Homo sapiens: one gene and its partner. The gene in region 2 interacts genetically with the main gene of each other region. Each region holds a gene or a part of one and is shown on either strand. Other genes may lie near its edges.

Region 1 (6,155 bases), on a different chromosome or scaffold from region 2:
TGGGTGTGTGTGTGGGTGTCAGGGGATGTGGGTGTGTATGGGTGTGTGGTGGGGGTATGTGTGTGGGGGTGGGAGGGTGTGTGTGGGGTGTGGGTGTGTGTGGGGGTGTGGGTGTGTGTATGGGTGTGTGGGTGTGGGTGTGTGTGGGGGGTGGGCGTATGTGGGTGTGTGTGGGGGTGTGTGTGGGGGTGTGGGGGTGTGTGTGTGTGTGGGTGTGTGTGTATGGGTGTGTGTGGGGGTGTGTGGGGGGTGTGGGGGTGTGTGGTGTGGGTGTGTGTGGGTGTGTGTGTGTATGTGAAATTGAGAGTGCATGTTTTGCCTTTCTTCCTCCTTAGCTTACAGAATTGGGCAATTGCAATCTGTCTTCTGTCAGGACCTCACCAATGTACATAGGTCAGTCAAAGATGTTTCTAATTGATTCTTTATTGACATACCTTAGCGCTCCTCCAATTAACTGGAGAATTCCTATGATTGTTGAGGCTTGCTCTTCATAGACATCTTCTCAGCCTTGCCACAGCCCCATTGGTTCCAGTTGCATATGGCAGCCCTTCATGATATTTTACCATTCAGGCTCTCCTGATTTCACAAAGATTTAGCTTATTTTTTATTAATGAATATCTTTGATGTTCAGAGTGGTTTCTGAAAGGAAAAGGAGAGGAAATTCATTACTCCATTATATTAAAAGCAGAAGTCCTTTCTAAGTCTCCATTACTCTTTGACAATATGCATGCCAATTATGTACACCAAAATTAGACTGGCTTTAAAAATGATGAACTTGAGGCCTTGAGAGTTACTGTGATTGAATTAGGGCCATACACATCAGTAAAAATGAACTGACAGGGTCTTGAGCCTGAATTCAACACATCAGATGGTATCTTAGGAATGCAATGTCAATCAAAGCCCAGTTGCTCTCCTTTGTCCACGTGCGGGAGCTTGTATTGCTCTGTTGATTTTAGTAAAATCTAGCTCTGTTACGGTGGCTTTACTGATGAGTTAGAGTTTAAATATGAACTTAGTTTCAACCTACATTAGAGGAACTATAATGGAGCAAACTCAAGAGAAGAAGGAAAAGAGGGACAAGGTTTCCCATACTCACTGACCTGATACTCTTCTTGCCGCAAACGTGAACGCTTATGGCATTGTCTCCCTTAAGCTTCACAGTCCTTCTGAACTGCTGTTATTATCCCCTTTTGACACATGAAAATGCTAAAGTACAAGAAGCTGAGTAACTTTTTTTTTTTTTTTTTTTTTTGAGACAGTCTCTCACTCTGTCACCCAGGCTGGAGTGTAGTGTTGCAGTCTCGGCTCACTGCAATCTCTGCCTCCTGGGTTCAAGTGATTCTCCTGCCTCAGCCTCCCGAGTAGCTGGGACTACAAGCGTGCACCACCATGCCTGGCTAATTTTTGTATTTTTCGTAGAGATGGGGTTTCACCATGTTGGCCAGGCTGGTCTCAAACTCCTGACCTCAAGTGATCCACCTGCCTTGGCCTCCCAAACTGCTGAGATTACAGGTGTGAGCCACCACGCCCAGCCTGAGTAAGTTTTCAAAGCCACCAGTTCAAAAGTGTTCATACTCCATCTTCTATGATCTTTCAGTTCTACCTTTCTGCCTCCCAGGTTACCATATTCATTCAGTTGAAATTGTCTCAGCCACAGCTTTGGGATTCTGTAAAGATAAAAGATGCACCAGAGGGATTCCTAAATGCTTTGTCTTCATCCTTCGAGCTGGGCGATACCTCCACGTTCTGTGTGCTTAGGGGCCACTTCTCTGAGCAGCATTCATCATGACACCCAACACTAATGCAGCAGGTTTTCAACCTGTAGTTTGTAGCCATTAATCAGTTCCTGTGACGTAAGCTATTGTTATCTCATGTTACAGATGAGGCAGCTGGTAGAGAGAGTGGTTAGGTAATTTTTCCAGAATCAGCAGTGAATCCAGGAGAGAGCTGAGACTGGACCTGTCTATCCCAGACATAGCTTACAACATGAGGGCTTTGCTAAAAGTAGTTCAGTAATCTCAACTCCCTTCATCACCTGCACTGTAAAAAAGATGTTTCATCTCACCTGTGCTGTTACCCATAGTGTGTTATAAAACCTGGTAGCAGAAGAGAAAAAGAAAGGTCAAATCAAAGAATATATACACAGGAAGTTTGTTTTTGACTAAGTATTTCAGACCATGAAGCTAAGACCATTTGGGTTTAAAGTTGCTAATAACAACACTTTCTTTATATATATTTAAAAAAATACATCAAGAGGGTTACACAGAAGGAAGCAGCCTATTTGGGGAAGGCTATCAAGCAGTAGAAAGTGATGTGAATGTCTATTTGTTCTTTTGGCTGTTTTTAGTTTCACTACAGAATAGCCTTTTTGGAGTACATAAATCTATAACCACACAAAATATGGCTAGCTTAAAAAAGTGGGAGAGGGAGATGATATGAAATTATCCCCTGAAAAGTCTTACTTTTGAACACTTGCATTATAATGGAAATAGCCTCAGATTTCTTCTGGTGGCATTCCAGCATTATTGGACAATTTATTTTCTCCTTAAGTGACATTTTAGTACATTGTGTGTTATATGTAATGATATTTCTGGAGTAACAAGTGTGCAAGAAGTGAGAGAAAAAGAAAGTACACTTAATATGTAGGCAGGTGTCTCAGCACTTTCTTTTTTGTACGTGAATCCCATTATCTCCAGTGATAACTTTGTTGACAGCACCCACCAATATATTCAGAGCAAGGTTTTATAAAATAGATCCAGAATCGTATGACTAAGAGACCCAGGTGACACGTGTCAGCCTCAGATAGTTGCTACATTTTCTGTTTTAAAGATTCAAACAAAACTTTTCACATTCTTCTTTGGGGAAAAAAAATTACATTTGAAGTCCTTTTTCACCCAAACACGTTTTGAGATAAGAGCTCACAAGTCTTGACATTATTTCATTTTGTTATGCGCATCTGTCAAGGAACCAAGATACGATACAGCTACTAAAAACTGATGATTGTGGAACAGAGAAACTTGACAGCATTTCATTTCCTTTATGTTCTGATTATACGTTTATCAGAAAACCTGTATCTCTTCTAGTTCAGCTAGAAATTGGTAGAATTCAGGAACTCAAAGGCTTGGCAAAGAACTGTCCTATTATTTGGTATCATCTTACATTTTAGAGAAGTTGCTTGGTTGAGTCATTGTTAAAGCTTTTGCTTCTCTTTTCATTATTGTGGGCCACTATCCACAGACCACATTTCTATAGGCCCTATAACTGCTTTGCCGCACAAATTAAACGCCGGGATGTTTCATACGTATATGCCAGCATTTCAATGCTTGTCAATCAGAGTTTATAAAATATAGGGATTACAACTTGATATTAACATCCAAATCTATTGTGCTCATTTTACGTGTGAAAATGAGAAACCCTCATGCAGACGCTAGATTTCCCAGCCTCTTTGTCACCCTGTTTTTAATTTATCTCCAGGTTTTGAGTCAGTAAAATGATTCCGCTTATCAATTTAATACAGAGATAAAACATATCTATGAATCAGAGTGATCGGAACTAAAATGGATCTACAGGTTGTTTGGCATTCAGCCCAGCCCTGCTGAGGGTTTTAGTGGGGCTAATTTCTCTGTACAGTAGATTCATCCCTGTTCTTAAATTGTGCCTCAGTGAGGGATATGATTTGCTTCACATGAAGAAGTAGACACAGAAGTGCATTGTTTCAGGGAGGAGACTTTAAAATTTTGAAACATTCTTTTTATGCTTACCTTTTTTTTTTCTAGGTATACTTCAAAAGAAATTATCCACATATTGGTCACACTGACCACATGGTTACAAACACTTCCAATGGACAGCCCTCGACCTTAACTATTTTCGAGACAGCACTGTGAATCCAACCAAAATGTCAAGTCCGTTCCGAAGGCATTTTCCACTAGTTTTTGGACTATGTAAACCACATTGTACTTTTTTTTACTTTGGCAACAAATATTTATACATACAAGATGCTAGTTCATTTGAATATTTCTCCCAACTTATCCAAGGATCTCCAGCTCTAACAAAATGGTTTATTTTTATTTAAATGTCAATAGTTGTTTTTTAAAATCCAAATCAGAGGTGCAGGCCACCAGTTAAATGCCGTCTATCAGGTTTTGTGCCTTAAGAGACTACAGAGTCAAAGCTCATTTTTAAAGGAGTAGGACAAAGTTGTCACAGGTTTTTGTTGTTGTTTTTATTGCCCCCAAAATTACATGTTAATTTCCATTTATATCAGGGATTCTATTTACTTGAAGACTGTGAAGTTGCCATTTTGTCTCATTGTTTTCTTTGACATAACTAGGATCCATTATTTCCCCTGAAGGCTTCTTGTTAGAAAATAGTACAGTTACAACCAATAGGAACAACAAAAAGAAAAAGTTTGTGACATTGTAGTAGGGAGTGTGTACCCCTTACTCCCCATCAAAAAAAAAAATGGATACATGGTTAAAGGATAGAAGGGCAATATTTTATCATATGTTCTAAAAGAGAAGGAAGAGAAAATACTACTTTCTCAAAATGGAAGCCCTTAAAGGTGCTTTGATACTGAAGGACACAAATGTGACCGTCCATCCTCCTTTAGAGTTGCATGACTTGGACACGGTAACTGTTGCAGTTTTAGACTCAGCATTGTGACACTTCCCAAGAAGGCCAAACCTCTAACCGACATTCCTGAAATACGTGGCATTATTCTTTTTTGGATTTCTCATTTATGGAAGGCTAACCCTCTGTTGACTGTAAGCCTTTTGGTTTGGGCTGTATTGAAATCCTTTCTAAATTGCATGAATAGGCTCTGCTAACGTGATGAGACAAACTGAAAATTATTGCAAGCATTGACTATAATTATGCAGTACGTTCTCAGGATGCATCCAGGGGTTCATTTTCATGAGCCTGTCCAGGTTAGTTTACTCCTGACCACTAATAGCATTGTCATTTGGGCTTTCTGTTGAATGAATCAACAAACCACAATACTTCCTGGGACCTTTTGTACTTTATTTGAACTATGAGTCTTTAATTTTTCCTGATGATGGTGGCTGTAATATGTTGAGTTCAGTTTACTAAAGGTTTTACTATTATGGTTTGAAGTGGAGTCTCATGACCTCTCAGAATAAGGTGTCACCTCCCTGAAATTGCATATATGTATATAGACATGCACACGTGTGCATTTGTTTGTATACATATATTTGTCCTTCGTATAGCAAGTTTTTTGCTCATCAGCAGAGAGCAACAGATGTTTTATTGAGTGAAGCCTTAAAAAGCACACACCACACACAGCTAACTGCCAAAATACATTGACCGTAGTAGCTGTTCAACTCCTAGTACTTAGAAATACACGTATGGTTAATGTTCAGTCCAACAAACCACACACAGTAAATGTTTATTAATAGTCATGGTTCGTATTTTAGGTGACTGAAATTGCATCAGTGATCATAATGAGGTTTGTTAAAACGATAGCTATATTCAAAATGTCTATATGTTTATTTGGACTTTTGAGGTTAAAGACAGTCATATAAACGTCCTGTTTCTGTTTTAATGTTATCATAGAATTTTTTAATGAAACTAAATTCAATTGAAATAAATGATAGTTTTCATCTCCATTCAGAGATCTGTATTTCTGTGCTTCAAGGGATTCCTGACTCATGTTCTTGCTGATGAATGCCAGTGAGTTTTCCTGAGATCGAAAAATACAGTATCAAAGGATACCTTCTATCATCAACCGGTTCTCTTGGCAAATTAGGTGTACCAAGTATTCTAACGGGTAGATTTCAGTGGGTTTCAGACAGTTTGAAGCAGTTGCTATTTAAGCAAGTCCATTTGCACCATTCTAGGAAGAAAGAGTATTAGCTTATGCCTCAGGCTTGAGCAGTATTAAATGGTTGAGGTTTTTGCTTTTGGTTTTGGTTTTTAAGGTGACTTTGTCCAAAACTAACAAGAAACATCTACCGCTGTTACGCTGAAATCACTATTAAATAATGATTCTCAAAGTGTGGTCCCTGGACCAGCAGCATACCGCATCACCTGGGAACTCGTTAGAAATGCACCTTTTTGTGCCTCACCGCAGATCTACTGAATCAGAAACTCTGGTGGTGGGGGCCAGGAATGTGTGTTTTAACAAGCCATAGGGTGAC
Region 2 (7,220 bases):
TCCCACCCTTTCCCCCGAGTCCCCAAAGTCCATAGTATAATTCTTATGCCTTTTGTCCTCATAGCTTAGCTCCCACTTATAAGTGAGAACATACAATATTTGGTTTTCCATTCCTGAGTTATTTCACTTAGAATAGTGGTCTCCAACTCCATCTGTGAGTTGCCATTATTTTGTTCCTTTTTATGGCTGAGTAGTGTTCCATGGTGTATATATACCATATTTTCTTTATCCATTTGTTGGTTGATGGGCATTTAGACTGGTTCCATATCTTTGCAATTGCAAATTGTGCTGCTATAAACATGTATGTACAAGTGTCTTTTTCAAATAATGACTTCTTTTCCTCTGGGTAGATACCCAGTAGTGGGATTGCTGGATCAAATGGTAGTTCTACTTGTAGTTCTTTAAGAAATCTCGGTACTGTTTTCCACAGTGGTTGTACTAGTTTCCATTCCCACCAGCAGTGTCAAAGTGTTCTCTTTTCACCACATTCACACCAACATTTATTCTTTTTTGATTTTTTTTTATTATGGCCATTCTTGCAGGAGTAAGGTGGCATCTCATTGTGGTTTTAATTTGCATTTCCCTGATAATTAGTGATGTTGAACAGTTTTTCGTATGTTTATTGGCCATTTGTATATTTTGAGAATTGTCTATTCATTCCTTTGCCCACTTTTTGATGGGGTTATTTTTTTCTTGCTGATTTGTTTGAGTTCCTTGTAGATTCTGGATATTAGTCCTTTGTCATCAGATGCATGGTTTGCAAATATTTTCTCTCATTCTGTGGGTTGTCTGTTTACTCTGCTGATTATTTCTTTTGCTGTGCAGAGGCTTTTCAGTTTAATCAGGTCCCACCTATTTATTTTTGTTTTTGTTGCATTTGCTTTTGGGTTCTTGGTCACGAACTCTTTGCCTAAGCCAATGTCTAGAATAGCTTTGCCAGTGTTATCTCCTAGAATTTTTATGGTTTCAGGTGTTAGATTTAAATCTTAGATCCATCTGGAGTTGATTTTTGTACAAGGCGAGGGATGAGGATCCAGTTTCAATTATCTACATGTGGCGTGCCAATTTTCCCAGCACCATTCGTTGAACAGGGTGTCCTTTCCCCATTTTATGTTTTTGTTTGTTATGTCAAAGATCAGTTGTTTGTATTTGGCTTTATTTCTGTGTTCTGTATTTTGTTCCATTGGTCTACATGCCTATTTTTATACCAGTACCACGCTGTTTTGGTAACTACGGCCTTGTAGTATAGTTTGAAGTCGGGTAATGTGACCTTAGATTGTCTATTTGTGCTGTTTTAGACTTTTTGATATGGGCATTTAATGCTATGAATCTTCCTCTTAGCACCACTTTTGCTGTATCCCAGAAGTTTTGATAAGTTGTGTCACTATTATCATTCAGCTCAAAGAAATTTTTGATTTCCATCTTGATTTCATTGTTGACCCAAATACCATTCAAGAGCAGATTATTTAATGTCCATGTATTTGTATAGCAAAAGTCCTATCCTGAGGGTCTGTTTTCTGAGGCCACCCCATTTCTGACACCTGTTTTCTTAGCCTATGTTTGGTAGAAAGCAAAGCCTGGAGCAAAACATATGTGGTAAATCTTTAGTGAAGGATGCAATCCCATGGGTGTAAGAGTGAGGGAATAAATGAAGTGAGGTAGGGAAGGATGGAAACAAAATATACTTTGGTGTGCTACTGAGTTCGCCACTGTTACTCAAGAAAACACAGCTTATCTCACAGTCTTCCTGAATGCTTCCAGAAGAGTTGTATAGAATCACACCATCTTGAAATGGTTGAGGAAAGGAATTGATCTGCCTACGGGTGTTTGTCTCATTTCTGTCAGTGGTCAAAGTTCACCCTATTAGGTGTTTGTTAGTTTCCTCACACCTCTGAGTTGTGTTACCTTGGTCCTGGTAGTCAGTAGGAAAGCCAGATCCCACACACCACAGTTCAATCCTGAATCCAAAAGTGGTAGGAGTCATCAGAGCCTCCATGGATCTGGTCAGGATGAGCTTGAGTGCAGAAGCTCCTGCTGCAGTGAGTGCAGTAGAGGTCATTTCAGAACCTAGCCCTCACTTTAGAAAAGTGAAGGAGTCAGAAGTGTCAGGAGATGTGAAAACGTCAGTGGCAGTCAGGGATTTCCATTGATCAAGTGCCTGATCGCCTGGGAAGTAGATAAGGCTGAGAAAATATGGAAGGAGTATAAATTGGAGCAAGGCCATCCATACTATGGTTTTCGTACCTGGACAAACAAGGCAACTCTAGTCCTGAATATTTTGCAGATGCACAGAGGGAGACCTGGAAGGTTACAGACCAAACTGGGAATAGTTGTTCCCTCTAGGAGCAGAATTGCTGGCTCAGAGGGTAGATGTATGTTCAACTGTAAGAGATAATGGAAACCCGTTTTCCTTACAACTGGTACCAATTTAGACTCCCACCAGCAATATTCAATAAATCATATGGATTCACATCCTCCCCAACACTTGGTACTGTTAGACTTTTAAATTTTTGACAACTGAATGGGTGAACAGTGGTATTTCATTGTAGTTTTGCTTTGCATTTTCCTGATCACTAATGATGTCGAACATCTCTTTATATGTATGTTTATTGGCCATATGCGTCTCTCTGTTGGTGAAATGCCTATTCATGTGTTTTGCCCACTTCTTTACTGGATTGTGTTTTTCTTAATAATTTGTAGTCCTTTATATATTCGCAATTGGAATTCCTTGCCACTTATCTGTATTGAAAATATTTTCTCCCAATGCACAGCTGTGTTTTTTGCTCTTTATGGTGTCTTCATAAATTAAAATTCTTAAAGTCAAAGTTACCACTATTCCATTCTATGGTCAATGGTTTGTCTACATTGTTTAGAAATCTGTATCCCAAAGTCTAAAAGTTCCTTGCCTATGTTTCCTGTCAAGAGCTTTAAGGGTATGTTTTTGACATTTAATTCCTTAATCCATCTGGAATAGATTATTATTATTTTCCATATCACATGAATGAGGATTCCAATTTCATCTTTTCCAATATAAATAACCATTTTCCAGCGTCAGTTAATAAAATGTCCCTGTTTACTTACCTAACATGCCACTTCTATCATATACCACATTTCTATACTTGCATGGTTGCGTTTCGGGGTTCTCTATTCTATGCCATTGCTCAATTAATCTATCCATGCCTCAATATCACAGTCTTAATTTCAATCTCTCCCCCCCCACCCCACCCCCCCCTCCCCCCCCGTTCGTTTAGAGTGATCTTGAGGAAGGGAACCGTCATTCACATGAGTTCGGCCTCTTGGTAGAGAAAACTGGGCAATGCAGCTCTAAACTGTTGCCCTTGGATTTTCTCCTCTTGGCTATGAGCTCCTCCTTCCCAGGAAGCTTTGAGGAAGGTCAGAATAAGATTACATGTAGTGATGAACTGCTTCTAATACTGTGAGGCTACTAGCTTGGGGTAGGGGACCAAGAGCCGTACAAGCCCATTAAATGTTTGTTTTGTTCAGAAAGCCTTCCATCGCTGTGACTGGTGTTTGAATGTCTCCAATGCGTTAGGATGCTAAGGAATCCTCCTCTAGGGTTACTAAGGAATGTTTGCTGCCTTTGCTTTCGCTGAGCCGGAAAAATTTTGTGGCATTTACAGCAGGAGATCTGCCCTAAGTAAAAACAGTTTGGTTTTGAAGGCAATAAGATGTTTCATCATCAAACAGCACACAACAATTAAATGACAGGGTGCAGCAGCACAGCAGCCTTAAAGGCATTTTCGCAATGTCCAGATCTCAAAGGGTAATGCTGCGCCCGCATCAATTTATGGGAAGAGTCTAGAGTTCACCTACATCTTTTGAACTCCACTAAGCCGGCCGATTCTGATTTCCCTTGTTGCCTCCCTGCAATCCCCACGAATTTGGCCAGGGCACCCGGGCGGCTCAGGCCCAACGGGGCGTGGGCCGTGTGCTCAACCACCCAGAAGCTGGGGGCCCCCTCCCCTTTCTTATCTTTCTGGCATTCATCTCACGCGGCCACCTACAGCTACGACTTCCTCAGGCCCTTTAAGGGCCGCTTCTCGGAGCGCAGGGAGCCGCGGAGTCCGGGGCGTGGGAGACTTCCATGGGCGGAGCGAGGGCAGGAGTGGGCGGGCCGTAGGCGGAGCTCCGTCCGCGCCCTCCCGGCGCACCGCCTGCGGGGCGGTGACTGGCCCAGCCGCACCGCGTCTCCCGCCTTCTCCGCAGCCCCGCAGGCCCCGGGCCCTGTCATTCCCAGCGCTGCCCTGTCTTGCGTTCCAGTGTTCCAGCTTCTGCGAGATGACCCTCAAGGCGAGCGAGGGCGAGAGTGGGGGCAGCATGCACACGGCGCTCTCCGACCTCTACCTGGAGCATTTGCTGCAGAAGCGTAGTCGGCCAGAGGTGAGCGGGCCCCGCTAGTCCCAAGGGCGCTGGGCCGGGGCTCGGCCATTCATCTCGGGACTTTCCCTGTCCCGGTCCCTGTCCCCGGGGGGCCTGTCCTTGCGGGTCCTGGCCATAGGTCGGAGACCGCGATAGCCGGCGGGGTGAGGACAAGGCCAGCGCGCGGCCGGGTTCGTACCGGGCTGCTGGTGCAGTGGATCCTTGCCCCCAGCAGTCCTTCCAGTTGGAAATCAGGAGAGGCAGCGGCCTGGACAGTGCGCTTATTAAGGGCAAGGAAAACTTCCTCGTGGACGGAAGTCAGAGTAACAGAAAGTCTTTAAGGAACACATCAAGGAGTAGGTCTGCCTGGTTGTTGTTGAAGTGCTTGTGTTTGGGTCAGCAGAAATGATTGTAAAAGCCAGCTTCTGGTTCTAAAGAGCTCACTCACTGTTCCTCTTCATTTAGGCAGGTCCCCTTGTGCTATGGTGCAAAGAGGGTGGCCAGTGTATATTTGCGGGTGGAACAAGGAATCCAGATTCCAGGGATGGATGGCTGGTAAATAGCTATTAACCTCCGTCCTCAAAGATGCCCTAAGGGTAGGTTGTGCTTATCTGTTACTGGCAAATCTCTCCCAAACTCGCTGGTTTACAACACTGAGCATTTTCTTGTCTCTCATATTTCGTTTTGATTGGGCCCAGCAAGGTGGTCGTCACTCAGGGTCTGTCAGGTGGGGACACGGCTCACTTACTCATTTGGAGCCATGAGCCATGAGCCAGAAAATCAACCAGCAGCCTCTCCCTGTGGCTTGGTCTTCCTCACAGCATGCTGGCCAGGTCCCAAGGGGAAAATGTCCAGAGAGAACCAGAGAGCCAGGCAGAAGCTCAGAAGTCACAGCATGAACCTCCTTCCTAGACTGCAAGGTCTTCTAGGGCAGGGCCGTGTCATACTCACTTCTTTAAGTGCCCAATAAGTGGGTCCTCAGAAATGTTTGCTAAATTAATAAATGACTGAAGAGATGGACATTTGGGATTTACAGTAACCCTCCGATTTCACAGATGAAAAAACTGAAGGTCCCTGCAACATAAGGCAAGCAGTAGAGCTGTAGACTCTTTGGGCTAAGTGGCATTAACTCAAGGAAACAAGTAATGGGCATCAGAACTGAGGCTAGATTTTGTGTCTGCTGCACCGCATTGCCTTACCCTTTATATTCCACTCGAGTGAGGCATTCACACCTGCCTGTCATTTCAAATCAGGATTGCAACAGCCTGAGTTTAAATGAGTGCAGAAATAATACAGGCATGAAAGATGCTATTGTTATACAGATGATGAGACAAAATTACAAGTTCTGTTACCTGATTCCCCATAAACTTGGACTTGTGATTTTTTTCTTCCCCACAATCAGTACTCACTTGGCTGAGCCTCAACTATTTTTAAAAAATCTATTTATTTCTGGAAGTCTTATTGAGGTACACTTAGCATACAGTAGAATTCATGAAATTTAATTGTGTAGTTTGATGACATTTGACAGATGTATATAGTCATGTAACGACAACCACAATCATGACAAAGAATAAACATTTTCAAGGTTCCAGGAAGTTCCCCTGTGACCCTTGGCAGTCAGTCACCTTCCTCCACCTGGAACATGGCAACCACTGATCTGTCACTATAGATTTGCCTTTTCTGGAATTTTATATAAATAGAATCCTACAGTATGATGTATTTTGTGTCGGGGTTCTTATGTAAACCTATGTGTTCCCTTATGGGCATGCTTGAAAGACTGTGCCTTTTTGAAAAGAGGCCCTGTCACCACCAGTGTTATGTTGTGGGCACAACCTCTGAGTAAACAGCACGTTTTGTGGGGCTGTGAGTTTATACTGTAATATTGGAGATAGTCTACCAGTTAGCTAATTTGTTTGGTTTTTACTAACGGATTTGAAGAAGATCAAATAAGAAAACTTACTGAATCCCTGAATGAAATAGTATCCAGCTGTGCCAAAGTGAGCATCTGAGGGAGACTCTTCACACGATGAAGTGTGGCTTGACTCCACAACCTGCGGATTCTTATTTCTTTAGGTTCACCTTCCCTTTGGGGCTCTTACCAGTCTTTGCTGCAGCAGCAAGCTCTGCCTTTCACTTGCTGCATGGTTTTGGGCAAGCTGCTGAAGCTCTCTGTGCCTTAGGTTTCTCTCCTTTATGAAACTGGCAAGTTTGGAAGGTTGTGGCAACATTTACATGAGATAATGCTTGACAAGGACCTTGAGCCACACTGGGACATCCAGGGTAATGACCCAGTATCTCCCTAGGAGCTGCCTGCCCAGTAGTAGCAGTCAGAAAGTTTTCCTATAATGGCAAGATTTGAAGCAGGAAAACCTGTGAGGAAGTTGTTGGCTTCAATAGAAATTATAAAATTATTTTGCTGAAAGTTTCATTTAAAGGTGTCACTTTATGGAAAAAGGCTACCGATTCAAAACAAAGTTTCACTTCCAATTATAATCCACATTTAATACTGAAAGAATATTGTCTAAAGGTAATTTTGCAATAGGTTTGAATGTAGCCTATCTCCCCTATTTAAGTATATCTCCTTCCTTGGATAAACTAATTTTTTTTTTCTTTTCAATGTGGTCTAGGCAGGTTAATGGAGAAACTAATTTTATTAGCTCTCTCTGGCCTTGTTCTTCACAGCAGTATCCATTAATGCACATAAAAGTAGTTGTAAAATTCCCAATACTGCTTTTCTCTTCGGGCCTGTTTGAAGCAACACTTTCCCCAGGACCTGAAGCAATTGGTTGAGAATCCCTGAAAATTCTCTTGGGCCTATCCCACATCAAAAAAAAATCACC

Evidence for each region. Genes that interact genetically often act in the same process or in processes that back each other up.
Region 1: of MPP1 (region 2) and ABCC4, changing one enhances a phenotype caused by changing the other (phenotypic enhancement), as found in Homo sapiens cells (one study listed by BioGRID).

The regions. Positions count from the first base shown.
Region 1 is NC_000013.11:95,019,304-95,025,458, reverse strand, and holds the end of ABCC4 (ATP-binding cassette sub-family C member 4), read left to right. Parts: intron 1-3,776; coding exon 3,777-3,884; 3' UTR 3,885-5,624; downstream 5,625-6,155. UniProt on the Homo sapiens protein: ATP-dependent transporter of the ATP-binding cassette (ABC) family that actively extrudes physiological compounds and xenobiotics from cells.
Region 2 is NC_000023.11:154,802,453-154,809,672, reverse strand, and holds the start of MPP1 (55 kDa erythrocyte membrane protein), read left to right. Parts: upstream 1-4,187; 5' UTR 4,188-4,299; coding exon 4,300-4,401; intron 4,402-4,845; exon of another isoform or gene 4,846-4,976; intron 4,977-7,220. UniProt on the Homo sapiens protein: Essential regulator of neutrophil polarity. Regulates neutrophil polarization by regulating AKT1 phosphorylation through a mechanism that is independent of PIK3CG activity.